Linked DNA regions of Homo sapiens. The protein of the gene in region 2 interacts with the protein of the main gene of each other region in a pairwise test. Each region holds a gene or a part of one and is shown on either strand. Other genes may lie near its edges.

Region 1 (3,500 bases), on a different chromosome or scaffold from region 2:
CTCAATTGGGGAAAAGGGCTGGCATCTAGTGGGTAGAGGTTGGGACTGCTGCTGAACATGCCACAAAGCACAAGACAGCTTCCACAACAAAGAATTATCTGACCCAAAATGTCAATGATGCCGAAATTATGAAACTCTGCTTTAGAAGTTCTAGTTTTCTCATTGAAATCTTCCCTGTTTAAATAATTTAAGTCAATTTTTTTGTCTTTACAAGATAGTAAAAAGCACAACATCTAAGAGCATCTAGGAGGCATGATAAAGTAATGAGAAGAAGAGATCAGATATCCCACTTACTGACTGTGTGAGCCTCAGTTTCTTCGTCTGTAAAATGGGGAAAATGATGCCTGGCTTGCAAAGTTATTGTGAGGATTGCAGACAATCAGTGTACAGGCCCCAGTCATGGTACATGCTAAATACCATAATTCTTTTTACGATCAAACAGCAATTATGTCACTCTCTAGTTTATCTGGGATGTGTGTGATCTTGCCTTCCTTTGAACCAAAGGTATGCTTTGTTTTTTTATAACAAAAAATTGTCTTGATTTGAATTTACTCATTGACGTTCGTATTTCTCCTAGACTTTAGGCTCCTTCAGACATCATTGTGTCTTCCAGCAGAGAACCTTACTCATGGTGAATACTCAACAAGCTTTTGTTGACCTGAAATATTAGCCAGAATAAATCCTACTTAATTTTCCTTTTCTTATAAGACTGAGTTCTTTTTCCCCTTGGAGCATTTTAATGTGTTTAGTAAAAACATTCACTTCCTGAAATGTAGCGCCCATTTTGTGTCTGTGCCCAAGATGAATGTGTGCTTGGTAATACCTAGAATCCTGGAAGTCTTGCTTTCCTGAATCAGGATCATGCAGAGCATTTCTGCTGGGGGAAGGGGAGTCTTGAGGAGGACAATATTTCATTGAAGAAATGACGGGCAGCATGGTTTGAATCTGGTGTTTTCCTTTTTGAACCCCTTAGGCTAATCCTTTTCGTCTGGCTTTGGTCTGACACTGTCCGATGAGCAGTCCAGTACATTGGCTTCTTTCTGGTAGAAGGGACATTTTGATTCCTTACCAGGTTTATATTTTATTCTAATGTCCAAAGTGAAGCGAAGTAATGAGTATATTTTCATTGAATAAATGAAATATTCATTCATTCTAATGAATAAATGATGACACAATGTTATACATCCTTTGCCTACAATCACTTAATCACTTCCCCCACTTTTTTTTTTTCCTTTTGAGACGGAGTCTCTGTCGCCCAGGCTGGAGTGCAGTGGCATGATCTTGGCTCACTGCAAGCTCTGCCTCCAGGGTTCATGCTATTCTCCTGCCTCAGCCTCCCGAGTAGCTGGGACTACAGGCGCCCACCACCACACCCGGCTAATTTTTTTTTTTTTTTTTGTATTTTTAGTAGAGACGGGGTTTCACCATGTTAGCCAGGATGGTCTCGATCTCCTGACCTCGTGATCCGCCTGCCTCAGCCTCCCAAAGTGCTGGGATTACAGGTGTGAGCCACCACGCCCGGCCTCACTTTCCCTTTTAGAATACATGCTAGATTGTTTACTCTGACCTGAAATAGTACCCATTTCTTTGTCAAGATGAAGACTTCACTAATTGTAATGGAAAGAAGTCCTCTCTTTCTGAATGCAGTTTTAGATCCTACAGCACACCATGTGGAAGTCTTTAAATGTTTATCAAGTTGTTGAATGTTAAAATGAGCCTGAGTGCAGGGGATGACCCTGAGACTCTGTCTCAGAACCAACTTGTGGAATGTCAGTTGGTGGGTTTGGATGATGGAAAAGGAAGCAGGCCCTGTGGGGAATGTGTGTTTTGACACAATGTTCCCTTTTAAAACGACCGTGCGTCTACTGTTTCACCATCTGCCCGTTAGTATCAATATAGCAAGAGGTTGTGGGAATTGGTGTGTATTTTGTGGAAGAAAGAATAACAACAACAAAAAAAAAAACCTTCTCTGCCGGCTTCCTTGAAAAGTGTGACTTTGTTCACTTTCAGAAGGTATAGGTTACAGCTGATTTGGAAAGAGGATCCTCCCTCTTTGAATGCCTTCAGGCTCAGAGGAAAATGAGAATCTATTTGGGTAAGTTAAAAATGCCAAACTAAATCTCCCAATGCAAATATGGACCACCCAGGGACACTGTAAAAGGCCAGATTTGGGGTTTTGAATATTTACACATTTTCTTGCCTCCTATTTTAAGCTTTTTAATATTTGTCAAATGCTGCTGAAAAGTAATTGGCATATCAAGCAAGGGTGAAATCCCATATCTTATGCCAGAGAATTTAAAGCCAGGGGAACTGTGCTCATTTTCCTTGAGTATCCCTTGTTTTTAAAAATGAAGAAATGTGAGTTCAAAAAATTCTAAGACAATAAATTAGAGACCTTAAAGTAGATAGAAAAGTTGGTTACAAAACTATTGTCGAGGAGGAGGAAGATATACTATCTTTGAGTGCTCCCTTTCCCTGGTATAGTCTGCCCTGACTGAGCCATTTTTCTCAGTAAATTGGGCAAAAGTTCATTTTTGACGATGGGTCAGGGTACTGGAAACATCACCCTATAACACTGTCAACACCACCGCTACCTTCCCAAATGCTGGAAAGGCAGATCTGGGCAGCACATGGAAAAAGTGTTTTCTAAACTTCCTGGAGGAAAATACAGAAAGTTGCTTTAACCAGGGCACATGCTCTGGAGACTGTGTGGTTAATAATGACATTTAGTACTTTCTTATTCTTTACACCCTCCTCACGGGGCATTCCATAGCACTTTAAGATGGGGATGGTAAAGGAGGGGTGCTTGAAGATGTCAACGCTGTCAGGGAAGGTGAAAAGTAACCAGAATTCCGACTCATTGGAGTGAATTTGATCAGGCTAGGCTGTGTCATGATGCAACAAAAAATAACTGCCAACCTCAGTGGACCAACACAACAAAAAAATTTTCTTGGCCACGTTACATGTCCAGTGTGGGTCAACAAGGGTCTGTGTTCACCATGTTCACTCAGAGGCCCATGCTGCATGAGGCTTCCTCTTGATATATACTTTTACAATCCCTGTGGTAAATTGCATACTGCATATTAAACCTCCTGGAAGTGACATATGACACCTCTACTCATGTTTCATGAGCCAAAAGCAGTTGTGTGGCCATTCCTGACTACAGTGGCATCCTTAAGTGTAGTCCTATGGGAAGGGAACTGGAATTTTCGTAATAAACTCAAATGACTATGGAAGGGAAGGACTTCCATGAAGTCTGCCTATTCCTGCTAATAACTACAGTCTCTATGGGGCACCCCTAGGGACACTGACTGATATGTAACCACATATGTAGTGGTTTCAGCCACCAACTCTACAAGTTAATTGGGAGAGTTCCCTGAGCCATTTGTGGGACTTGCAATAGAGGTGTTGCTCATTTGCTCAGCCACTGCATGCTCAAACCCTGTATGGGATGGGGAGCATGCAGACAGGCAGGTGCAGGAGCCAGAATGAGCACTTTT
Region 2 (3,776 bases):
CTGCGCAATTACTACTATGACGTGGTGAACTAACCGCTCCCGCACCTGTCGGTGGCTGCCTTTGATCACAGGAGCAATCACAGGAAAATGTATCCAGAGGAATTGATTGTCAGCCACCTCCCTCTGCCAGTCGGGAGAGCCAGGCTTGGATGGAACATGCCCACAACTTGTCACCCAAAGCCTGTCCCAGGACTCACCCTCCACAAAGCAAAGGCAGTCCCGGGAGAAAAGACGGATGGCAGGATCCAAGGGGCTAGCTGGATTTGTTTGTTTTCTTGTCTGTGTGATTTTCATACAGGTTATTTTTACGATCTGTTTCCAAATCCCTTTCATGTCTTTCCACTTCTCTGGGTCCCGGGGTGCATTTGTTACTCATCGGGCCCAGGGACATTGCAGAGTGGCCTAGAGCACTCTCACCCCAAGCGGCCTTTTCCAAATGCCCAAGGATGCCTTAGCATGTGACTCCTGAAGGGAAGGCAAAGGCAGAGGAATTTGGCTGCTTCTACGGCCATGAGACTGATCCCTGGCCACTGAAAAGCTTTCCTGACAATAAAAATGTTTTGAGGCTTTAAAAAGAAAATCAAGTTTGACCAGTGCAGTTTCTAAGCATGTAGCCAGTTAAGGAAAGAAAGAAAGAAAAAAAAAAAAGGCCTGGATACTGCTTTTGCTGTCTCTGTTATGAGATGGAAGACTTACATGTTTGTGATAAAAGGGGACCATGAGAATGAATTGGCTTGGCTTACTTTCCCCCTGAAATCCTCTCTCCTGCAGACTGTCTTGAAGACCTGGTGACTGGTAAATAAAGCCCTGCATGGAGGCTGCACAGCAGGGGCAAGAGGCCCATCCCCCAGCATCTCACTGAGGACAGCTTCAGGCTGCCTTCCTCTGAACGTGGTCCACACCTTCCTCTCCTCCACAGAGAGGGTGCCGCCAGAATCCCCTGTCGCTTTCTGTGTCTGCAATGGGGGGCAGCACAGGGATCAAAGCCATCTAAAGAGTTTCCAAAGAAAGTATTAATTCAGAACAAGCCAAAGACCCTGAGCCTCACCACAAACAGGCCTTTTGGAGTGTGAATTTGAGTTGAAGATACAAGATCGGAGAATGATTTTCTGGTCTTAACTAATCCTCATCTTCATGTTTGATCTTTAAGAAGTCATCACCCATTGATTTCAGTTTTGCTGTACCTCTTGAAAGTTAAAGAGACATCTCAGCACTTTAGGAGGCCGAGGCGGGTGGATCACTTGAGGTAAGGAGTTTGAGACTAGCCTGGCCAATATGGTAAAACCCCATCTCTACTAAAAATACAAAAATTAGCCGGGCATGGTGGCATGTGTCTGTAGTCCCAGCTACTCGGGAGGCTGAGGCAGGAGAATCGCTTGAACCCAGGAAACGGAGGTCGCAGTGAGCCAAGATCATGCCACTGCACTCCAGCTTGGGCATCACAGCGAGACTCTGTCAAAACAAACAAACAAAAAAACAACTTAAAGAGGTAATTTAGCCATCATTCTTATGCCAGCAGATATAAATAAACTTGGACCCATCTGGTCTTCAGCTAAACCTGAGACATTTTAAAGTGCATGGACAGCCATGGACAGCAGGCCCTCCTCTAACAGGGGATGCAAGGCATGGAGAAAGACAATCAGTACCCAAGCTCAGCCACAGAAGACAGGAGTCACTCATATAACTTGTGTTTAGAAGTTTTTGGTAGCCACGCACACTTTCTGAAATCACACTATCTGGTGGTTTAATCATATTTTTAAAGACAGAATCCCTGAGTGCTGAGCAGATTCTCAAAACACATTTAGAATCCCTGAAATTAGAAAGATCAATGACAAAATATCTGTCAGCCAGGCCACAAACAGGTGTAAAATTATGAAAGGAGTGGTTGGATGTGCCAAGTTTGGTAAAGTGGTGACTGCATCTGAGAAAGAGGCTGTGAGGCTGAACTCTTGGTGGCTTCCTTCTGTAACTTCCAGAGGGAGTCTTCAACACAGGCCCCGTGCTCGTAGGAATACGGTAGCACCTATGTAGGAAGTGCGTGGAGTTTTCTGTCTTCTTTCTGTGTGATTTTTGGCCTTTTTATCAGCACTTCTCCCCTCCCAGGAGCCTGGGGATGCCAAACATCCAGAATGTGATGGGACAAGATGGGGGCAGGGGCCTCACCTCCCTGCAGAGGTCCGGCCAGGTCTCCTTGTCCCTGGACAATCTCCTGAGCCTCTCTGCTTGGTGGAGCAGGCACCTGTGTGCAGAATTCCCACTGTGGCCAGCACGAGGAAGTCTTTTCTAGTGAAAATGTGTCTTGTGGTCAGGAATAATTATCCTTTCCCCTGTAGCCACCAAGGAGGGCAAATAGAGAAAGGTAACCTAATTGAAGGATTGGTCATGTGAAAAGGGCTACATTTGGGAAGCTGGGAAAGGCCTCCAGGCTTCTAGAGCAGCTAGCTTGGGCTGGATTCTCATACCCAGGCTGCCCCTTGGATTGTTCTACCCAAGCTTTTCCCTGGGGTCTGGGCTCACTCCATAAGGTAAGGTGCCTTTTACCTTATGGTCCTTCTTTAGCAGGTAACAAAGGAGCATCAGGGGCAGGCTGCCCTGGTGGCATCACACTGGCTAGTGAGGCCGTGAATATCTTGTCCCCCAGCAGGGCCGACAGTTTCTATCACAGAAAACAGTGTGTTCAGTGGTGAAAATCGTTGCATGCATGTTTTCATCTGAGCGTGTCCTTCTCCCATACTCCCTATCAGCCAGCCCTGCCTGTAGCTGCTGTATGGTGATTGCACTTGGACATCAGTCCAATGACTGCAAGTCGGCCTGGATTTTCACTTGCAGAGGCTACAGCTGCATTGTCAGGTCTCCCAGCCCTGCAGAGAGCTCCCTCCACTGGTTAGCAGTGTGTTGTGTTTTCCATTCATTTCAGAAGAGCTACATTGTGTCACTGGACATTTTTAAAAACTGTGATTTTTAATAAAAATTTAAAATTTGCTTTGTGATGATTTTCATGGAAGTTATTAGGATGTGGTAAGTCACACTGTCAAATAGTGTCAAGCAGCATTGTCAAAGGGGTAGCTAAATGTTTTCTAAAACATTAAGTCCCTGCCATGTCCCAAAAAAGTGAATGTGTTGGCCGGGTGCAGTGGCTCATGCCTGTAATCCCAGCAGTTTGGGAGCCCAAGGCAGGAGGATCTCTTGAGCCCAGAGTTTGAGACCAGCCTGGACAACATAGTAAGACTTTAGCTCTGCAGAAATCAAAACATTAGCCGGGTGTGGTGGTATGCACCTGTAGTCCCAGCTACTTGGGAGGCTGGGGCAGGAAGATTGCTTGAGCCTGGGAGGTCGAGGCTGAAATGAGCTGTGATGGCACCACTGCACTCCCAGCTGGGTGACAGAGCAAGATCCTATCTCAAAAAAAAAAGTGGATGTGCACAGGTCAAAGTTGACTGTGAGATTCCACCACACAGAACGGCGGGGAGGCCCATCAGGGAGGGCCCTGTCCTGCCCTGCCTCTATCTTTTATTCATGAGCAGAGCATCTACCCAGCCAGGGCCTGACAGCCCATGGCCTGCCTAATAAAAGACAGACTGAGGAGACCCAGAAATCCCCCATCAGGCCAAAGCAGGGCTGTGGGTTTTGAGCTATCCCTTTCTCTATGAAGACAGCCTAAAAGGAACTGCGGTAGGCAAAGAAAGGATTCCAGAGCCCCAATTTCTGCCTGTTCTAAGGAGGTTACACACATGCGCAGACATGCACACATATACATCCACATGCACACATGCATT
Region 3 (3,500 bases), on a different chromosome or scaffold from region 2:
CTATCTTGTCTAATTTAAAGTCCATTTTATCTGCTATTAGTATAGCCACTTCAGCTGTCTTTTGGTGACTGCATGGTATATCTTTTTTCATCTGTTTTATTTTATTTTATTTTATTATTGTTTTTAGAGACAAGGTCTCGCTATGTTAGCCAGGCTGGTCTCAAACTCCTGGCCTAAAGCAATCCTCCTGCCTTGGCCTTCCAAAGTGCTGGGAATACAGGTGTGAGCCACCACACTCGGCCCTTATCCAACTTCTAGCTTCCGTTGTAGCTATTGAAGTCAGATTTTAGTTTATCAGTTACTCCTTTAAGCATACTTTGGAACTTTATCCTCAGACTCTCATTACCTTTAGAATTTTCTCTGATTTTGGCTTTCTGCAGTTTTGGTATAGTGTATCCAATATGAATTTCTTTTTACCTTTTTCTTTTCTTTTTTTTTTTTTTGAGACAGAGTCTTGCTCTGTTGCCCAGGCTGGAGCACAGTGGGACAATCTCAACTCACTGCAACCTCCACCTCCCTGGTTCAAGCAATTCTCCTGCCTCAGCCTCCCGAGTAGCTGGGACTAAAGGCACGTGTCATCATGCCCGGCTAAATTTTGTACTTGTAGCAGAGACAGGGTTTCACCATGTTGGCCAGGCTGGTCTCGAACTCCTGACCTCAGGTGATCTTCCCACCTTGGTCTCCCAAAGTGCCGGGATTACAGCCATGAGCCATTGTGCCTGGCCGAATTTCTTTTTACAAATTCTGCTCGGGATTCATTAGATTTCTTTAACGTGTAGAGCAATTTCTTTCTTTCTTTCTTTTTTTTTTGAGACGGAGTCTCGCTGTGTCACCCAGGCTGGAGTGCAGTGGCACGATCTTGGCTCACTGCAAGCTCTGCCTCCCGGGTTCACGCCATTCTCCTGCCTCAGCCTCCCGAGTAGCTGGGACTACAGGCGCCTGCCACCATGCCCAGCTAATTTTTTGTATTTTTAGTAGAGATGGGGTTTCACTGTGTTAGTCAGGATGGTCTTGATCTCCTGACCTCATGATCTGCCTGCCTCGGCCTCCCAAAGTGCTGGGATTACAGGCGTGAGCCACCGCGCCTGGCCGTGTGGAGCAATTTCTTTAATCAGTTCTGGAAAATTATCAGCCATTATCTCTTCATATATTGCCTCTATTCCATTAACTTTTTTATCCTGTGTTATTATTTATTTTTGAGGTAGAGTCTCGCTCTGTCACCCAGGCTGGAGTGCAATGGTCCGATCTCGGCTCACTGCAACCTCCACCTCCTGGGTTCAAGCAATTCTCCTGCGTCAACCTCCCGAGTAGCTGGGATTACAGGCGCTCGCCACCGTGCCTGGCTAATTTTTGTATTTTTAGTAGAGACGGGGTTTCACCATGTTGGCCAGGCTGGTCTTGAACTCCTGACCTCGTGATCTGCCCGCCTCGGCCTCCCAAAGTGCTGGGATTACAGGCGTGAGCCACTGCACCTGGCCTACCTAAAGTCTTTGTGGGCATTTCTTCTGGTTTGTTTTCATAGTGCTTTTTTTTCTTGTGTACCTGTTTACTTAAAAAAATGTTTTTTTGGCTGGGCGCGGTGGCTCACAACTGTAATCCCAGCACTTTGGGAGGCCGAGGCTGGTGGATCACGAGGTCAGGAGATCGAGACCATCCTGGCTAACATGGTGAAACCCCGTCTTTACTAAAAATACAAAAAAATTAGCCGGGCATGGTGGCGGGCGCCTCTAGTCCCAGCTACTTGGAAGGCTGAGGCAGGAGAATCGCTTGAACTCAGGAGGTGGAGGTTGCAGTGAGCCGAGATTGCACCACTGCACTCCCGCCTGGGTGACAGAGCGAGACTCAGTCTTAAAAAAAAAAAAAAGTGTTTTTTTGGCTAGGCATGATGGCTCACCCCTTTAATCCCAGCACTTTGGGAGGTGGCTGGATTGCTTGAGCCCAGGGGTCCAAGACCAGTCTGGGCAACACAGTGACACCCCATCTCTACAAAAAAGTGAAAAAAATATAAATTACCTGGGCATGATGGCCTGTGCCTGCAGTCCCAACTACTTGCAAGGCTGAGGCAGGAGGATCGCTTGAGCCTGGGAGGTTGAGGCTGCAGTGACTCATGATTGTGCTGCTGCACTCCAGCCTGGATGACAGAGTGAGACCCCATTTCAAAAAAAGAACATTTTAAAATTGAAGTATAATATAGTTCAGAAAAGTACACATATTCTAAGTATATGGCTTACAGAATGTTTACAAATTGAACATATCTATGCAGCCAGAATTCAGATCAAGAAACAGGGTATGGCTGGGCGTGTTGATTCACGCCTGTGATCCCAGCACTTTGGGAGGCTGAGGTAGGCAGATTGCTTGAGCCCAGAAGTTCTAGAACAGCCTGAGCAACATGATGAAATCTCTACTAAAAACACAGAAAATTAGCCGAGCATAGTGGCATGTGCCTGTGGTCCCAGCTACCCAGGATGCTGAGGTGATCATCACCTGAGCCTGGGAGGTAGAGTCAGCTGTGAGCCATGATTGCTTTACTGCATTCCAGCCTGGGTGACAGAGTGAGACCCTGTCTCGAAAGTCCCCCCACCAAAAAAAAAAAAGAAAACAGGAAAACGCAGGCTATTGGCCGGGCATGGTGGCTCATGCCTGTAATCCCAGCATTTTGGGAGTCCGAGGCGGGTGGATCAGGAGTTTGAGAGCAGCCTGGCCAACATGGTGAAACCCTGTCTCTACTAAAAAAATATAAAAATGAGCTGGGCATGGTGGCGTGCACCCGTAACCCCAGCTACTCGGGAGGCTGAGGCAGGAGAATTGCTTGAACCTGGGAGGTGGAGGTTGCAGTGAGCCGAGATCGTGCCACTGAACTCCAGCCTGGCTGACAGAGCAAGACTCTGTCTCAAAAAAAAAAAAAAAAAAAAAATGCAGACTATTATCAGCTCTAGAAACCTTCTAGAAACCTCCTTATATGCTCTTCCAACCCCTACCAACACCTCCCTCCACCTCCCCATATTAAGATAGCTACTGTCTTGACTTTGAGAGCATAGATGAATTTTGCCTACTTTTTTTTTTTTTGAGACAGAGTCTCACTATGTCCCTCACGCTGGAGTGCAGTGGCGTGATCTCGGCTCACTGCAACCTCCACCTCCCAGGTTCAAACGATTCTTCTGCCTTAGTCTCCCAAGTAGCTGGGATTACAGGCGTGCGCCACCACACCCGGCTAATTTTTCTATTTTTAGTAGAGACGGGGTTTCACCATGTTGGTCAGGCTGGTCTCAAACTTCTGACCTGATGATCCACCCGCCTCGACCTCCCAAAGTGCTGGGATTACAGACGTGAGCCACTGGGCCTGGCCTGCCTACTTTTAAACTGTGTAAATAGAATCATACAAAATATAACTTTTTGTATCTGGCTTCTCTTCCTCAGTGTTATGTTTTTGTGATTTATTCATAATATTGTTCTTAGCTGTAGACTCATTTATTCTTGCTGTGTAGTATTCCACTGCGCCT
Region 4 (3,500 bases), on a different chromosome or scaffold from region 2:
AATAAAACTGAAACATACACAACATCCTCATATAGAGAGGATTGGTTACACAGATGTGGGGCATTCAAATACAATTTCCAACAAACTTTTGCATTTGTAAAGTGCTTTACAACAGACAAAAGCCCTTTCATACACTAATTTACAGGGGGTACCCGTTAAAACATTACAATGAAATAACAGAGATGGCCGGGCGCCGTGGCTCACGCCTGTAATCCCAGCACTTTGGGAGGCCGAGGCAGGTGGCTCACTAGGTCAGGAGTTCACAACCAGCCTGGCCAACATGGCGAAACTCTTCTCTACTAAAAATACAAAAATTAGCTGGGAGCGATAGCGGGCGCCTGTAGTCTCAGCTACTTGGGAGGCTGAGTCAGGAGAACTGCTTGAACCCAGGAGGTGGAGGTTGCAGTGAGCACGCCACTACACTCTAGCCTGCGTGACAGAGCAAGAGTTCGTCTCAAAAAAAAAAATTAACACAGAAGATAATTCCTCTCATATTAAGGCTTAATATGGATACGGTTGCTCAAATATCATCAATAGACATGTTTTCAAATTAGCGTTTTAGAACTCAAAAAGAATATTAAACTAAGAACAAGCTACTTTTTAAAATTTATATATTTTATTTATTTATTTTGTGATGGATTCTCCCTCTGTCGCCCAGGCTGGAGTGCAGTGGCACCATCTCAGCTCACTGCAACCGCCGCCTCCCAGGTTCAAGTAATTCTCCCACCTCAGCCTCTTGAGTAGCTGTGATTACAGGCACCCACCACCATGCCCGGCTAATTTTTGTACTTTTAGTATAGACAGGGTTTCGCCATGTTGGCCAGGCTGGTCTCGAACTCCTGACCTCAGGTGATCCACCTGCCTCAGCCTCCCAAAGTGCTGGGATTACAGGCGTGAGCCACTGCACCTGGCCAAAACAAGCTCCTTTTTTTTTTTTTTCCTGAGATGAGTCTTGCTCTATCGCCAGGCTGGGATGCATTGGCACTATCTTGGCTCACTGCAACCTCCGCCTCCTGGGTTCAAGTGATTCTCCTACCTCAGCCTCCCAAGTAGGTGGGATGACAGGTGTGCACCACCACATCCAGCTAATTTTTGTTATTTTTAATAGAGACAGGGTTTCACCGTGTTGGCCAGGATAGTCTCAATCTCTTGACGTCGTGATCTGCCCGCCTCGGCCTTCCAAAGTGCTGGGATTACAGGAGTGAGCCACCGCACCCGGCTTATCTCTTCTTTTCTAACCACGTAAGCGCCCTGTGTATTATATTAGATGTGTCTTGGGGTAGTGGCTCTCTTTCCACGGAGGACCACAGATCTAAAGAAATAAAAACTGAGCTACACAGATGCACAAGATGATGTGGTTGGTAGCAGGTAAATTTTCATTTTTGGGCTTGAGAAAGTACAGGTACAAGGTGGGGGAGAAAACAAGTAGAAGATACACAACTAAAAATGTGTGCGCACACACACACAAGATGTCCTTTTCTCCTCACATCCTCTGCCCACACAGTCACCCAATCAATCATAGTCTTTCACTCTTCTCCATTACTGACATCAGGATACTTAATGTTACCTTATATTACCAGGGCCTCTAGTTTCCTCCTCCTCTTTCAAGCTATCCTACAAGAAGACTCATCACCCAAAAACTATCATGAGTCCATGTTTGCAAAAATTTCTAAGTCTTTTAGCTAGTAATCAGCACCCTCTCCCTCTATAGCTGCTCTACATGCTATTCCCCCAGGAATCTTCAACTTCCTCTATTAAGACCTTATTTCCCAGCCTGGCCAACATAAACATAGCCTGACCCTGTCTATACAAAAAAAAAAAAAAATTATCCTGTCTCTACAAAAAATCAAAAAAAGAAAAATTTAGCCAGGTATGGTAGCACACACCTGTTGTCCCAGATACTAAGAAGGCTAAGGTAGGAGAAGCCTGAGTCTGACAGGTTGAAGCTAAGTGAGTCGTTGGGCAGGGTGGGGTGGCTCACGCCTGTAATCCTAGCACGTTGGGAGGCTGGTAGACTGCCTGAGCTCAGGAGACCAGCCAGGGAAACATGATGAAACTCCGTTTCTACTAAAATACAAAAAATTAGCCGAGTGTGGTGGCGCACACCTGTAGCCGCAGCTACTCAGGAGGCTGAGGGAGGAGAATCGCTTGAACCTGGGAGGCGGAGGATGCAGTGACCCGAGATGGCGCCACTGCACTCCAGCCTGGGCCACAGAGACTCCACCTCAAAAAAAAAAAAAAGACTCCACCACTCCACCAGGCGCGGTGGCTCACGCCAATAATCCCAGCACATTGGGAGTCCAAGGCAGGCAGATCATCTGAGGTCAGGAATTCGAGACCAGCCTGGCCAACATGGCAAAACCCTGTCTCTACTAAAAATACAAAAATTAGCTGGGCAGGCTGGGCGTGGTGGCTCACACCTGTAATCACAGCACTTTGGGAGGCCGAGGCAGGTGGATCACCTGAGTTCGGGAGTTCAAGACCAGCCTGACCACCACGGAGAAACCCTGTCTCTACTAAAAACACAAAATTAGCTGGGTGTGGTGGCAGATGCCTGTAATCCCAGTTACTCAGGAGGCTGAGGCAGGAGAATAGCTTGAACCCGGGAAGTGGAGTTTGCAGTGTGAGTTGAAATCACGCCACTGCACTGCAGCCTGGCCAACAAGAGTGAGACTGTCTCAAAAAAATAAAAAATAAAGTGAGCTGTAATGGCACCACTGCATTCAAGCCTGGGCAACAGAGTAAGACTGCCTTAAACAAACAAACAAACAAACAGAAAAAGAAGGCAGAGTTTCAGAGATATTTGCAGACCCGTGTTCATAGCAGTACTACTCACAACAGCCAACAGTCAGAAGCAACCCAAGTGTCCATCAATGGATGAATGATTAAACCATATGTGGCATAGGCATACAATGGAATACTATTCAATCTCAAAAAGGAAGGAAATCCCATCACCGGCTATAACATGGATGAACTTTGAAGACAATATGGTAAGTAAAATAAGCAATTCACAAACAGATACCACAAAGTTTTAAAAAAGAAGGAAGGAAGGAAAGGAGGGAGGGAGGGAGGGAAGAAGGGAGAGAAAGAAAGCTGAGCTTAATTTCTGGTCTCCTGGTTGGCATCGTGGCTCGCGCGTGTAATCCCAGAACTCTGGGAGTTGGAGGAAGCAGGATGATCGCTTGAGCTCAGGAGTTCGAGACCAGCCTGGGCAACAAAGCGAAGTATCTATGAAAAATTAGGAAAAAAAAAAAAATTAGCTGAGTGTAGCGTCATCCGCCTGTGGATCCAGCTACTCAGGAGACTGAGGCAGGAAGATCACTTGAACCAATAACAGCAGGAGTTTGAGACTGCAGTGAGCAATAACCACGCCACTGCACTCCAGCCTGATGAAGAGCAAGACCCTGTCTCTAAAAAAATAAGTAAGGCTGAGCGCGGTGGCTCACACCTGTAATCCCAGCACTTTGGGAGGCCGAGGTGGGCGGACTGCCTGAGCTCAG

The links. Proteins that work in one complex are often made in the same cells at the same time.
Region 1: the proteins of SYK (region 2) and DYNC1I1 interact in binary tests that used the Homo sapiens proteins (3 or more experiments, as listed by UniProt).
Region 3: the proteins of SYK (region 2) and TRAIP interact in a two-hybrid assay, tested with the Homo sapiens proteins (one study listed by BioGRID).
Region 4: the proteins of SYK (region 2) and CANX interact in binary tests that used the Homo sapiens proteins (3 or more experiments, as listed by UniProt).

What each region holds. Positions count from the first base shown.
Region 1 is NC_000007.14:95,779,054-95,782,553, forward strand, and holds part of DYNC1I1 (cytoplasmic dynein 1 intermediate chain 1), read left to right. Parts: intron 1-3,500. UniProt on the Homo sapiens protein: Acts as one of several non-catalytic accessory components of the cytoplasmic dynein 1 complex that are thought to be involved in linking dynein to cargos and to adapter proteins that regulate dynein function.
Region 2 is NC_000009.12:90,895,568-90,899,343, forward strand, and holds the end of SYK (tyrosine-protein kinase SYK), read left to right. Parts: coding exon 1-33; 3' UTR 34-2,982; downstream 2,983-3,776. UniProt on the Homo sapiens protein: Non-receptor tyrosine kinase which mediates signal transduction downstream of a variety of transmembrane receptors including classical immunoreceptors like the B-cell receptor (BCR).
Region 3 is NC_000003.12:49,850,065-49,853,564, reverse strand, and holds part of TRAIP (E3 ubiquitin-protein ligase TRAIP), read left to right. Parts: intron 1-3,500. UniProt on the Homo sapiens protein: E3 ubiquitin ligase required to protect genome stability in response to replication stress.
Region 4 is NC_000005.10:179,701,967-179,705,466, reverse strand, and holds part of CANX (calnexin isoform d precursor), read right to left. Parts: intron 1-3,500. UniProt on the Homo sapiens protein: Calcium-binding protein that interacts with newly synthesized monoglucosylated glycoproteins in the endoplasmic reticulum. It may act in assisting protein assembly and/or in the retention within the ER of unassembled protein subunits.